Homo sapiens: one gene and its partner. The protein of the gene in region 1 interacts with the protein of each later gene in a pairwise test. Each region holds a gene or a part of one and is shown on either strand. Other genes may lie near its edges.

Region 1 (7,891 bases):
GAGGTGGCTTGAAAATGGCTGTATTCAAGTGTTCAAATAAGTCGCCAAGAAATTAAGAAATCATCGCGTTAAGAGCGACAATAGCAGGGAAACAAAAACAGGCTGTTGTGTTAGCCCAGCCAAAAGATGATGGTGAGTGGCAATGGAGATAAAAGGGTGGATTCTAGATCTATGGGGGGTTGGGACTAATCACTTGCTGATGGATTGGAGGGTGGGATGAGGAAGAGAGAAGAATCAAAGGATGACCTCTTGGTTTTGGGGTTGAGCAGCTGGTAATGCAACAATTGGGAAGGTTGGGGGAGGAGCAGGTTTATAGTAGAAAATCAGTAGTTCCATTTTGGCACTCATATCTGCAGGCTTAGGAATCAAACTATCTGGTCCAATTCCAGTCTCTGCCACTTTGTATCTGGGCGGCCTTCTCTGGGCCTCAGTTCTTGTCTGCAAAACAATACTCCTAAGAATTGTTGAGAGGGTTAGATGAGCTAATGCACATAACCCTGGCTTGTGGTAAGCACCTAATAATGTTGGCAATTGTTTGCTATCTGCTGCTAAATACATCTACGTAGTCTGTTGACCTTGATCTTTTTCAAGTTAATCTTACACTGTATCCTTTTGTGATAAATAGATGATAGTCCCATCAAGAAGAAGAAATTCTCACAAAGAAGAAATTTGCCCAAGAAGTAAAGATAAATCCTTCAAAGTTACTGCTTTTCTTTGTACTTGGAGGATTTTTTTTTAAGTGGGGGAGAGTTCATCTTTGTGAAAAGGACACAATAATACACTTGCTCTCTCCCTATGTGTTATACATATTTAATCTTCATTAGACAAAGACTCAAAACGAATAAAGCACTCTGAAAAGTTGCTTAATTGGGACATAGAAATCTCTTACATTTTTTCCAAATCTAAAGGTGTACTAATTTAAAAATTAAAACCCTACTGAGAAGGTGCAGTTAAATAAGAAAATCCTATTTTATCCCTCCATTGTATGAAATTAGGGGTGTTGGTTGGGTGGTGCAAGACCTAGAGATGCCTGTGAGTAGAATCGGCCTCTCCTGAAATGGTCCACTCCACTCAGAAGAGCAGAGTCCTCAGTGGCAGAAATTGGCCCATCTGTCCCCAATTGTGTGGGTAAATGAATTTTGGCAAAGCTGTTGCATTCGGTGGCTGGTATATAGTAAGTACTATGTAAGTGTTTGTTATGTAAGCTAGATGTTTATCTTGAAAAACCTGGTAATACAGTCCCTTTTACTGACAGCTTCAAGATATGTTTCATAACAACAGGGGCCAAAGTAGAACTTCCTGTGGAATAATCTACCCTCCTGACACCACTACCCCTACTCCCGCTAGGCAGAAAACCACATACTGCCAGTATTCTTAGTTAAATGTTCTTTCATAACAGGATATTTCTTTATTTTTACAGCATCTGCAAACATAGAGAATTCTGGGCTTCCACACAACTCCAGTGCTAACTCAACAGGTGAGTTTTAAAAGATTAAAAAAACAAATTTTCATTTGTCTAGGGTACATGAAGTAATAACAGCCAGGGAAGTAGGCATAAGCTGGTTCACTGACCTGTTTTAACCCTGAGTTCTTCACCCATGAATCCCAATAACCTGCCCTAGTGCCCTATAGTAGACATCAGTAAGTGATAGTTCACTGGATTAATCTTCCTCAGTCTTGTAAAGATGTCAATAAATTCTAAAACAAAAAGTGTATCGGAATTTCATGTTATGAATTTTTGAAGCACATTTTTAGATGTGAGGGTTTTGTAGTTTGCCTGTAGATATGAAATGTCAGCACAGAAGTCTGCAGGTCCTATTGATGAAACAAGTCACTGTAAACTAGTCAGCCATGGCAGCCTTAATATACCTCTGCTGACTCTAAGGAGACCCTACTTACATTTCACCCATTAGGCAGACTCAACCCAAACACTTGGTGAGGCCCTTACCCTGTGATTTTAGTTTGGGACAAAGCCTTGGGCCTCTGAGTTCACTAACATGGAAAGATGCAAGAACCAGGCTGATGTCATCAATATCAGTAGTAAATCATCAAGGTACGTTTCTTGTAAACAATTTTTAAGTTATCTTCTCACTGCCCTTAATCTTCACAGTTGACTGAGTTGGAAACTAGAAAAAGGTACACCAATCCTATCACTAACTTGTTTTGTTTACTTTTAGTCAGGGAATATTTATGGACTCTAATGAGCTAGCACATCCTAGGTTCTAAGAATACAAAATGGACCAAGCCTTAACTTCTAGGAGTTTTTGTTCTTTTGTTTTTTATTTTGTGGCAAAATATACATGACATAAAATACATAAGTAACCATTTTTTTAAAGTGTAAAGGTCAGTGGCAGTAAGTACCTTCATGCTGCTTTGCAACTTGCTGGAGTTTTTATTCCTGTGGGGCATCCCAGTGTTTCACTTAGTTTATGTTCTTGGTTTACTGCTGTTCTTTGTTTCATTATCTCTGCCTTTTTGACTGGTGTCTGGTGGTACGTAGTCAGGACATACTTTAATTCTAGTTTTAGTAATTCTACAGAAAACGTTTTCATTGAGAGGAAAAAAAGTCTAGAGGGATTACTCCAAAATGTAATAGTGGTTATCATTGGGTAGTTGTGAGAGGGTCTTAGTTAAAAAATATTTTATTACACTATTAGATAGCTTTTCCTTTTGTCCTTTATTGAATCTAATTCTGCACTACTGAACTTTTAACCTTGGGTAGACAAAGGAGGTAGAAGAAACATAAAGACAGTAATATTAGCAATAGACACCATTTTTGAATGCCTACAACTTATAAGATACTCCTCATACATTTACTAATTTAACAGTGGTGAGGTAGGTGTCATTTCTGGTTTACACATGGGGAAATTGAAACTCAAGAGTGGTTAGGAAATGCCCAAGATCACATGACACTAAGTGTCACATTCAGGATTTGAAACCCAGTTGTATTCTAAAACCTATGTCTCTTTATCACACTGTCTGAAGTGTGGTGTGGCCTTACTTTTAAAACATGCTTTTCACTGTGAATGATTATTAAAAATCAACTGAATACTTTGAGGGCAGCTCCAGAGTCAGTGGGATGATTTCAAATGCCCCTTCTAGCACAGGGAAATTTTTTGAGAAAGAAGAAAAGCATTGCCTCAAATTTTTCTAGAAGGAGAACAGATAATACAACTATTAAAAATGTTTTTGCACAATGTGTTTTACGCCTCATAACTGTCGCATTCCTCTTTGTATCTTGAAAACACTTTTGAAACATGTTAAGTTTGTGTATTTTTATAGGATGGATGCTTAACTGTTTTTCTTTTTAGTTACATAGACCATTGTTGAAGCTTTGTTTCTTTGAACATACTGTTTACCAATTTATTTGGTGCTATTTATTTAGTGCAGTTTCTGTGGCGCCATATTTCCTCTCACTAGGAAAATAGCATCTTTGGCAAATTCCATTATGATGTGTATTCCAGGAATGTACTGTTGGAAAAAGCGGAGACTGCCTGCAGTACTCCTTAGAATGTTGGGTGTCTATCACTTTTATAGGACTCACCACGTTGGAATTTCAGAGAATCTTTTTTTCTCTTGTTTTGGTCTCCAAGTTCCTTGAGAGTGAAATCTATGATTTATTCATCCTAACATCTCACTCTATGCCTGGTGCATAGTAGGTATGCAGGATATGTATGTTTTTGGTTGGTTGAACTCAATTGTGGAGCAACATAGATATTTTGTAATTGCTGACTTGCCTTATCAAAACACTAATATATACATTTTGCAGATGTGTACTGGTTTATGCTCCAATCCTATACATTATTACAGCTGTTTTTCTGTTTATACAGTAATATAGGTACTTGAAGTCAATAGGAATAAAGGTTGCTTTCCAATGTACCACTGAGTTACATGTAACAGTTCTATTTTTTTATGTCCTCTAATCATTATTTGAAGACAGCTGTACTTTTGACATTCTTGTCTGCAGGGACTTGTTTGACACACTTTCAGCTTATATAGAAAATAATTTCCCCTTATTTCATTTGCAGTCAGAGTATTTAGATTCTGTGGATGGATGAATTTACACTTTATAGTGCAAGGAAGACACATGCCCAGATTATTTTTCATAATGGGTTTGAGCAAGGATGTAAGGAAATGTGGCATGGTCTAGATTGGAGTGCACATCTCATCAGTAACTAGAACAGCAGCTCAATATCATTCAGGATACAGCCGTCTCCTTGATCACATAGCATTGATACTTCCCAACAGAGGGATCTGAGAGGATTGGGTTACCATCATCCAATCTGAAGCTCTTTTCTTGGACATAACTTGCACCAACTCCTTTCCAAAGCCGTTTATCTCTTAATCATGTATGTTCCATTTATTACGATTGCCATTAGTTTGGTTATTCATCCTTGGCCTAGTCATTTGGGCCACTCTAGTGAGGTTAGTTTTGTCCATATTCATGGCAGGGATGGGTAGTTGTGAGAGGGTCTTATTTTAAAAATGTTTTATTACACTATTAGGTACCTTTTCCTTTTATTCTTTATTGGATCTAATTCTGCACTACTGAACTTTTAACCACCATTTTGAGCACTTGGACCTGGCTTGCATTTAGATTTCTACAGAAGAAGGCAGTGGAAATTTGGGAACAGCTTATTCTGTATTCCAATTTTTACCCCCGATTGCAACAATGAAAGTCTTACTGAAGTGGAAAGAATTTATCAGGTATATAATCCTGTATGTCACACTACCTTCTTCTGTTTACTTTAGATAAAATGTTTTATGTGTGAAAAGAATATTAGATGGAAACTTTCTGTGAGTTTGTAAGTCAGTCAAAGACAGGAACCAATTGGCCTGACAGGTTGCTTTAGTTGCAAATGGTGATACAGATGAATGATTGATTGACTGATTGATTGATTCACTGATAGATGCAAATGTTGATAGATACAAACAGTGATAGATACACAGAGAGACATAGAGATATCAATACTAGTTTTTAACTAGAGATTGGATGTAGAAAAGAATTTTTCTAACTAAAGAATTCATAGTACACTTAACTGCTTCAACTCCTCAGAAAGTTAATTGTGTTCAACTCATGTTTTTGAGATTGCGTCTGAAAATTGATGGTAATTTTTTTTTATACTTCGAGTTCTAGGGTACATGTGCACAACGTGCAGATTTGTTACGTATGTATACATGTGCCATGTTGGTGTGCTACACCCATTAACGCATCATTTACATTAGGTATTATCTCCTCATGCTATCCCTCCCCCCTTCCCCCCACCCCACGACAGGCCCTGGTGTGTGATGTTCCCTGCCCTGTGTCCAAGTGTTCTCTTTGTTCAGTTCTCACCTATGAGTGAGAACATGCGGTGTTTGGTTTTCTGTCCTTCGGATAGTTTGCTGAGAATGATGGTTTCCAGCTTCATCCACGTCCCTACAAAGGACATGAACTCATCCTTTTTTATGGCTGCATAGTATTCCATGGTGTATATGTGCCACATTTTCTTAATCCAGTCTATCATTGATGGACATTTGGGTTGGTTCCAAGTCTTTGCTATTGTGAATAGTGCTGCAATAAACATGTGTGTGCATGTATCTTTTATTTATTTATTATTATTATACTTTAAGTTCTATGGTACATGTGCACAATGTGCAGGTTTGTTACATATGTATACATATGCCATGTTGGTGTGCTGCACCCGTCAACTCGTCATTTACATTAGATGTGTCTCCTAATGCTGTCCCACCCCACCCCCACCCACGACAGGCCCTGGTGTGTGATGTTCCCCACCCTGTGTTCAAGTGTTCTCATTGTTCAGTTCCCACCTATGAGTGAGAACATACGGTATTTGGTTTCTTCCTTGCCGTAGTTTGCTGAGAATGATGGTTTCCAGCTTCATCCATGTCCCTGCAAAGGACATGAACTCATCCTTTTTTATGGCTGCATAGTATTCCATGATGTGTCTGTGCCATTGTCTTAATCCACTCTATCATTGATGGACATTTGGGTTGCTTCCAAGTCTTTGCTATTGTGAATAGTGCCACAATAAACACACGTGTGCATGTGTCTTTATAGTAGTGTGATTTATAATCCTTTGGGTATATGCCCAGTAATGGGATGGCCGGGTCAAATGGTGTTTCTAGTTCTGGATCCTTGAGGAATCGCCACACTGTCTTCCACAATGGTTGAACTACTTTACCCTCCCACCAACAGCGTAAAAGTGTTCCTATGTCTCCACATCCTCTCCAGCATCTGTTGTTTCCTGACTTTTTAAATGATTGCCATTGTAACTGCTGTGAGATGGTATCTCGTTGTGGTTTTGATTTGCATTTCTCTGATGACCAGTGATGATGAGCATTTTTTCATGTGTCTGTTGGCTACCTAAATGTCTTTTGAGAAGTGTCTGTTCATATCCTTTGCCCACTTTTTCATGGGGTTGTTTGATTTTTTTCTTGTAAATTTGTTTAAGTTCTTTGTAGGTTCTGGATATTAGCCCTTTGTCAGATGGGTAGATTGTAAAAAATTTTCTCCCATTCTGTAGGTTGCTTGTTCACTCTGATGGTAGTTTCTTTTGCCATGCAAAAGCTCTTCAGTTTAATTAGATCCCATTCGTCTATTTTGGCTTTTGTTGGCATTGCTTTTGGTGTTTTAGTCATGAAGTCCTCGCCCATGCCTGTGTCCTGAATGGTATTGCTTAGGTTTTCTTCTAGGGTTTTTATGGTTTTAGGTCTAACATTTAAGTCTTTAATCCATCTCGAATGAAATTTTGTATAATGTATAAGGAAGGGATCCGGTTTCAGCTTTCTACATATGGCTAGCCAGTTTTCCCAGCACCATTTATTAAATAGGGAATCCTTTCCTCATTTCTTGTTTTTGTCAGGTTTGTCAAAGATCAGATGGTTGTAGAAGTGTGGTATTATTTCTGAGGGCTCTGTTCTGTTCCATTGGTCTATATCTCTGTTTGGTACCAGTACAATGCTGTTTTGGTTACTGTAGCCTTGTAGTGTAGTTTGAAATCACGTAGCATGATGCCTCCAGCTTTATTGTTTTGGCTTAGGATTGTCTTGGCAATGTGGGCTATTTTTTTGTTCCATATGAACTTGAAAGTAGTTTTTTCCAATTCTGTGAAGAAAGTCATTGGTAGCTTGATGGGGATGGCATTGAATCTATGAATTACCTTGAGCAGTATGGCCATTTTCACGATATTGATTCTTCCTGTCCATGAGCATGGAATGTTCTTCCATTTGTTTGTGTCCTCTTTTATTTCGTTGAGCAGTGGTTTGTAGTTCTCCTTGAACAGTTCCTTCACATGCCTTGTAAGTTGGATTCCTAGGTATTTTATTCTCTTTGAAACAATTGAGAATGGGAGTTCACTCATGATTTGGCTCTCTGTTTGTCTTTTATTGGTGTATAGGAATGCTTGTGATTTTTGCACATTGATTTTGTATCCTGAGACTTTGCTGAAGTTGCTTATCAGCTTAAGGAGATTTGGGGCTGAGATGATGGGGTTTTCTAAATATACAATCATGTCATCTGCAAACAGGGACAATTTGACTTCCTCTTTTCCTAATTGAATACCCTTTATTTCCTTCTCCTGCCTGATTGCCCTGGCCAGAACTTCCAACAGTGTGTTGAATGGGAGTAGTGAGAGAGGGCATCCCTGTCTTGTGCCAGTTTTCAGAGGGAATGCTTCCAGTTTTTGCCCATTCAGTATGATATTGGCTGTGGGTTTGTCATAAATAGCTCTTATTATTTTGAGATACGTTCCATCAATACCCTGTTTAATGAGAGTTTTTAGCATGAAGGTTGTTGAATTTTGTTGAAGGCCTTTTCTGCATCTATTCAGATTATCATGTGGTTTTTGTCGTTGGTTCTGTTTATATGCTGGATTACGTTTATTGATTT
Region 2 (7,891 bases), on another chromosome or scaffold:
TACATGACAAAGTCATTGATAGAACAGCAAGGATAATACTACAGAAGCATAGCACCTAACCACGTGAATACAACTCATGAAATACAGGATGTTATTTTGAGTGATATATAATATAGTATTATAGCCTATATTATAGGTGATACCTGTAGCATTATAGGTGATACCAATTTGATTATTAAAGTACAAAAGTCAAGATAGTTGCCCTTAGTTTACGTAATGAATAATAATTAAAATAATCAGTCAAATATTTGAGTACATATTTTGTACCTGAAACTTGATCAAGCATTGTATATTTGACTTCCTGTGAGTGAATGTATGACTTACACGTATAGTTAAATATACATAGCATACAGTTAGAATACAAAATGAATGGCTTAGAGTCTTACTGTAATTTTTTCTTAAGTATAGTGATGTAAAAAGGCTGTGTGACAGATAGGAACTTGAGCTCACTAGTTTTTAAAATGTTTAGTGCTCAATTCTGAAAGATATTGAAATTGTTGGTCTAGAGTAAGGACAAGTATGAGTATTTTGTAAAATCTCTTTAGGTAAATCTGAAGTCCACCTCTGGTTAAGAACCACAGTTGTAGTTTAAAATATTCTTTAAACATAAGAAAAAATTTCATGGTACAACTCTTTCCTTTATTTCATCTGAAAATTAAAGAAAAAATCAAAATTGCTTTCTTCTTCTTTAGATTCCAGGAATATACAATTCACCCTTCAGAAAAGAGCCTGATCCATGGGAGCTGCAATTACAGAAGGCAAAGCCTTTAACACACCGAAGACCTAAAGTTAAGCAGAAGGACTCCACCAGCCTTACTGATTGGCTAGCTTGTACAAGCGCCCGTTCTTTTCCTCGGTCTGAAATTCTACCACCTATTAATAGAAAGCAATGTCAGGTACTAGTTTGCTGTATAAGAATTCTGTCATTAATTTTATTCTTGCTATTTTTTGCACTTTTTATATAACACTATCTTAATTTAACCATTTTTAATTATATAGTTTAGTGGGATTAAGTACATTCATATTTTTGTGCAATCAGCTGTCGCTAGAACTCTTTTCATCTTGGAGAATTAAAACTATACCCACTAAACAACTCTCCATTTCCCTTTGCCCCATCCCCTGACATGACTTGTTTCACTTAGCACGATGTTCTTAAAGTTCATCTATGTTGCAGAATATGTCCGAATTTCCTTCTTTCTTAAGGCTGAATAATATTCTATTTTATGTACATACCACATTTTGTTTATCCATTTATCTGCATTTGGCATTTGAGTTGCGACCACACTTTATGTATTGTGAATAATGCTGCTGTGAACATGGGTGTAAAAGATCTTCTTGAGACTGTTTTCATTTCTTTTAAGAATATACTCAGAAGTGGAATTGCCAGATTATATGGTAATTATATTTTTAATTATTTGAGAAACTGCCATACTGTTTCTCATAGCATCTATACACATTTTCCATTCCCATCAACAGGGCACAAGGGTTCCAATTTCTCCACATTCTTGTTGCAGTTTTGATTTGCATTTTTCTAATTGTTAGCGATGTTGAGAATCTTTTTATGTGCCTATTGGCCATTTGTGTGTCTTCTTTGAAGAAATGTCTATTCTAAGTCCTTTGCCCATTTTTGAATTGGGCTGTTTTTTGATGTTGAGTTTTAGGAGTTCTCTATATATTCTGGGTATTCATGCCTTATCAGATACATGGTTTGCAAATATTTTCTCCCATTCTATGGGCTCCTTCTCTACTCTGTTACAGTGTCTTGCTTTTTAAAAATACAGGGCTGGGCACAGTGGTTCACGCCTGTAATTCCAGCACTTTGGGAGGCCAAGGCGGACAGATCACAAGGTCAAGAGATCAAGACCATCCTGGACAACATGGTGAAACCCCATCTCTACTAAAAATACAAAAATTAGCTGGACATGGTGGTGCACCCTGTGGTCCCAGCTACTCGGGAGGCTGAGGCAGGAGAATCACTTGAACTCGGGAGGCGGAGGTTGCAGTGAGCCGAGATCGTGCCACTGCCCTCCAGCCTGGCGACCGATCTATATATATATATATAGAGAGAGTCTATAATCTATCTATCTATCTATATATATATAGATTATTGTTTTGTTCCATTTTTTTGACCAGAGGAAAATTATTTTTTGCAACTCTAATTTTAAATAATAAACATAAAGTAATTTACAAATATATACCAAAGAAGTGAACAAACACTTCTTTGGCATTAAATCTTGTTATATTGAATAAGAAGTTAAAACATGGATTATTTCCTAGAATCTAGATTTTTTATGTAAAAATATTGTTATACCACTACTTGTTATAACCTGTTGTTGCTGGGAATACATGTATTATCAATTTTATTGAATTTAACCTCTCATTTGATGCTATATGTCTTTATATGCCATTTTAAACAAAACTTGGGTTTGAGTAATTTTACAAATGTAAATTTGAGAATTTGAGACAGCTCAAAACAAAGCAATACTCATAGTAGAGATGGGAAATCTTCCCTATAACTAGATTGTAGTACAACAGGTTTGGCAAATGACTTCCTGAGGCTAAAGGGTAGAGTGGGGTGGGGTGAATGATGATTGTCACCATCCTAAAAGTCCCGGAGAGCCACAGGTCTATCATCCCAATCAATAATTAAGCTGCCACCATGTAGTATCAACTACCTTGTGTTAGATTTGGCTCACACAATTAAACTCCCAGAACTCCTGACCATTAACTCCCTGAATAGGCGTGCCCTTGTGTATCTATATTGCTGTATAATAAATTACTCCAAAATCTAATGGGTTAAACCAACATACATTTGTTACTTCACAGTTTCTATGGGTTTGCCATTCTAGGTACAGCCTTTGGTGAGTTCCTCTTACTCAAGTTCTCTCATGATGTTGTAGTCCAGATGTCAGCCAGGTGAGGCACAGTGGCTCATGCCTATAATCCCAGCACTTTGGGAGGGTGAGGTGGGAGGATCACTTGAGCCCAGGAGTTCACAACCAGCCTGGGCAACATAGCGAGAGCCTGTCTCTATTAAAAAAAAAAAAAAAAAAAAGATGTCAACCATGACCGTGATCTCATATGAAGGCTCAGACGGAGGGTGGGGATAGGAGGGCAGTGAGATCCTCTTGGTTGGTTCCCTCACTCACATGGTTGGGTGTTGTCATGCCTCAGCCCCTCCTCACATTGGCATCTTCACAGAGCTGCCTCACAACATGGTAACTCATTTCCCTCTGGGTGAGTGATCCTAGGGAGAGAGAGAGACAGCTTTCAAAACAGAAGCCACAGGCTTATAAAACTAATGCTAGAAGTGACATCCCATCACTTCTGCCATGTTCGAAATGAGTAAGTCTATTTTATATTCAAGGGCAAAAGACTACCCGACGGTGTGGATACCAGGAGGCAGGGGCCCTTGGGAGTCATCCTAGAGCCTGCCTTTTATACCCTCAACCATTGAATCATCCTTGCAATAAGACAGCCCTGCATTCTATTTCATTAAAAATCTCCCACTTTACTGTAATTATTTGTGATATATGTTGTGTTTCCATTCTCTATAATTACGTCCTTAATTCCCATTATTTGTATCTTTTTTTTTACTCTCTCAAAACTACTAACTGATAATTAATACTATTAACTGATGGTTTATACTGTCTTAGAGAAAGAGCTATAAAATATAATTGAAAATCTATAGTCAGTTTCCCCCTTGGACCGCTTTCTCCTTTTCTTCATCTCTGATTCAGTTCCTGTGATATTCTATTTATATCCGTATTCTTTTTTTGAGATGGTGTCTCGCTGTGTTGCCCATGCTGGAGTGCAGTGGAGGGATCTCAGCACACTACCACTTCTGCCTCCCTGGTTCAAGCGATTCTCCTGCCTCAGCCTCCCAAGTAGCTGGTATTACAGGCACCTGCCACCATGCCCTGCTAAGTTTTGTATTTTTAGTAGATATAGGGTTTCACCATGTTGGCCAGGCCGGTCTCCAACTCCTGACCTCAGGTGATCTGCCTGTCTCGGCCTCCTAAAGTGCTGGGATTACAGGAATAAGCCATCACGCCAGGCCCATGTATCAGCATTCTCAATTACCTAGTAAACTAATCCATTTATCTGAATCTGATCATTCGTTCCTTTACTAAACTGGAGTGACAAGCATAGTGGAGTGAGCAAGGGGACAAAAGAGAGATAGTAGGAAAATTTTCAGTTTTTTAGGGGGATATGTCTTCAGAGTATGGTTTCATTATTCCTTTTTAAATAAGAGTTATATCAATATTCTAGTGAAAGCATTTAAAATAGTTTTAAATGTAAATATAAAATGAATTTTATATTATGAATAATTGAATTTTTGCTATTTTGAATTATGTACATTACTATTTTTCTATTAGTGTAAGTAATCATCACATTGCATATATAACATATAACTTTGCATCAACAAGCAATTAAATTTATTAATTATTCTATCAAGAAAATAATAACTCCAGCATTTCCACTGCATGTATATTAAGTGTTCAGTGTGTTAAATGTATTAACTACTCAAAAGCAGTTAAGGTAGATGTAACATTGCATATTTAAATTTTTAATAATCCACACTGCTGGTGGGCGCGGTGGCTCACACCTGTAATCCCAGCACTTTGGGTGGATTACAGGCTGGAGTGGGTGGATCACCTACGAGGTCAGGAGTTCGAGACCAGACTGGCCAACATGGTGAAACCCTGCCTCTACTAAAAATACAAAAATTAGCCGGGCATGGTGGCACATGCCTGTAATCCCAGCTATTTGGGAGGCTGAGGCAGGAGAATCGCTTGAACCTGGGAGGTGGAGGTTGCAGTGAGCCGAGATCACACCATTGCACTCCAGCCTGGGTGAGAGAGCAAGACTCCATCCCAAAAAATAATAATAATAATAAACCACGTTGCATGCTATATTCATTTGTATAGCTATTGGTACTACATGGAATTCATAGAGTAATTTTGCATACAACTTTTTAGGAAATGTGAAAATTACATGGCATGAATAAAATAAGGGCATGTAAATATTTCTGAGCTGGAAACACCATGAAGGTCATCTGAACCAAACTACCACACTATACAATATTCACAACATTAACCATTAAACATGTAATATTATGGTATAGGTGTTTTATAATGTTATTACATTTGCTTTATTGCCCTGCTTTTAATATACTTTTAATGATGTGTCTTCTTCTACACTTGTCAGTGTTCATTCTTCATCTCTGTTTCTCAATACAACCTCTGTACAACCATCTTCATTCCCTACATGGCTTTCTTCCTCCATACCATTCTATGTACACATATACCTATATACATAAGTGTATTTAGTATGTATGGAATGCATAGGCAGAAGGTACATATATAGAAATAATGTATGGATGATGTATAGGTATATGGAAAATATATATGTATAAATGGTATATCAGCCCATATGGAAGATATATATATATATGGTATAAGTATAAAAATAGAAAAATACACACATTTGTAAAACAACTTGTGTGTGTGTGTGTGTGTGTGTGTGTGTCTGTGTATGGAGAGAGAGAAATATTTATGTTTATATAGAGAATATATAAACACATGGCAGAATTAAAAAATATGTATTTATATATGTATATATGTATACTTACATATATATACACACATATACTCCTGAATTACATTTATCTAGCATGCTACAAAATAATGATCCCTACTAATCTATTCTCTTTTCTTCGTTCTCTCTTTTTTATTCTCTTCTCTTCTATTATTTATTTTCTCTTTCAGTGTTTTTTCTTTCCTTCTTCTTCTGTCTCCTTCCTTCCCTATTTTAAACTCCTCCTCCTTTTCCTCTGGCCATGTCATCCCCACTGCCCTATTCTTCATTCTCTTGTTTCCTTCCTTCTCAGTCTTCCTTCTGTCATCTTTTCTTAACACCTTCTCCTCTCTTTACTTCCTTTGCCTCTTTTCTTCACCATTCTTCTTTTTTCTTTTCTCTTTCCCTTCTTCCTTTTTTTTTCCCAAAATGGGATTGTTTTACATTTTGTTTTGTTTGTTTGTTTTTTCTGAGCCATATTCCTGTGTGTTACCAATAATAAAAAAGTATATACCTCATTGGTGACATTTAAGATTATGCCCAAATGATAATATTTGTACTCTAATCAGAGTAGCTTTACTTGCCAGGTGAATTTTTTAAACATCTAGGACAATTTTATGGTTTTAATAATGGCTTAAACATATAAAATGACTATAAATAACATGAATTATGGAAAATACAGCAGAACATAAATATATTTGACTCTCCTAACCAGGGCTTAGGTGGAGGCAATGTAAACTAAACATTAAAAAACCATAGCTAAGAGTCCAGAAATACCTGTAGTGTCAAGTTAAGTCTTGGATGATCTAGGTATTCTAGGGATTAATTGGAAATAAGTACAATCAGCAGATCTAAAGTTTGATAGGTGAAAGATACACATAGATATATAGATATATAAATATAGATATATATTTACAAAACCTGGGTTCCCATGTCACTCTAGGCATGACTGGGATAGATGATTGCCTGATATCCAAAAAAGGCAGTTTTTCAAAAGAAATATAAATCAACAAAAATTTGACGTAAGAGAAACTTGATAGCTGGTGTCAAGTTCACTAACCAAGGAGCTGGAAGACTATTGAGCTCAAAGACAAGATGCTAATTGTCTGAGGTATAAATGTATGTACCAGGCATTGCAAAGACATAGGGGCATGGACATGACTGCACAAAAGTCAGGGATCATGAAGGTGGGAGTGAACCCAAAAGGAAGACTGAGTTTACTTTCATTCTAATCCTAAGCAGGGCTTCTTCTCTTTCATTTTGTAGTCTCATTGGAACTAATAAGTTCCAGAACAACAGTAGAGTAAGCCTACAAGTAGATATGTGTTATGTTTGCTTATCAACAAAGGTTAGAAGGCATAACATGGCCACCAAGAAGACCATTGCTCCATGTGAATGCTGGTCTCTTCAAAGTCATAGCCTTGGGCCATTGTGTATTTCTTTGATGCTACTATTGCTCAAAACCTTTTAAAAACTCTTCTTGAAACTAATAATTATGATGGTAATAACAATAACAATGTAGTGGGAACCATTTTGAGTGTTTACTGTGTTCTAGGTACATGGTAAGGGTGTCACATTATCGTACACATCTTAAGAGAAATTCTGTGATGTAGTTATTCCATTTTACAAATGATGAACATCGGCATAGAGAAATACTTTGCTCCTTGTCATAAAACCAAATATTAATTTTTTAAGTCATAGACTCTGTCAAAGTATAAGAATAAGAATAAGAAAAAAAAAAGAAGTCCCATTTGATTTCTTAATAGTGGACTTGGAATCATGTTACTGTATCTTTAAAAAGTAAAATTCCAATAGAAATCCATTAACTACTTTCAAATATAGCAATCCTCCTGTCCAGCTGTGAAAAGTACTAGATGATACTTATTTGCCATTTGTGTTATTTACGGTCCATGACTTTTATGGTAACTGGTTCCTATTATTGGTTTCTATTAATGTAAAGCATAAGTGAACATAAATGAGGCGTGAATCATTTCTTTTTATTAGCCCCACAGTCTTCACTCAGTGCTTGCAGTAACTCCAGCTGTGTCTTGTTAGTGATAACCTATTTAAAGAAGATATTTTTAAGAATAAGGAATATGATTAGAAATCTTTGTCCATTTAATATTACTTCTCTCCTATACGACAGTGATGAAAAAAACCAATATGCAATTAATGGCACAGCAAAATCTTGAGCTGCCTTTGATTTGTATTGTGCCTAATACGATACTAATTAGACAACCAGTGGATTTTAGTAACTAGTATAAATAACAACTAACTTGAAAGCAGGATATGTTGTAAGTTACTTTTCACA

Evidence for each region.
Region 2: the proteins of TMEM123 (region 1) and SPATA17 interact in binary tests that used the Homo sapiens proteins (3 or more experiments, as listed by UniProt).

What each region holds. Positions count from the first base shown.
Region 1 is NC_000011.10:102,442,398-102,450,288, reverse strand, and holds part of TMEM123 (porimin precursor), read left to right. Parts: intron 1-1,420; coding exon 1,421-1,477; intron 1,478-7,891. UniProt on the Homo sapiens protein: Implicated in oncotic cell death, characterized by cell swelling, organelle swelling, vacuolization and increased membrane permeability.
Region 2 is NC_000001.11:217,773,642-217,781,532, forward strand, and holds part of SPATA17 (spermatogenesis-associated protein 17), read left to right. Parts: intron 1-692; coding exon 693-896; intron 897-7,556; exon of another isoform or gene 7,557-7,642; intron 7,643-7,891.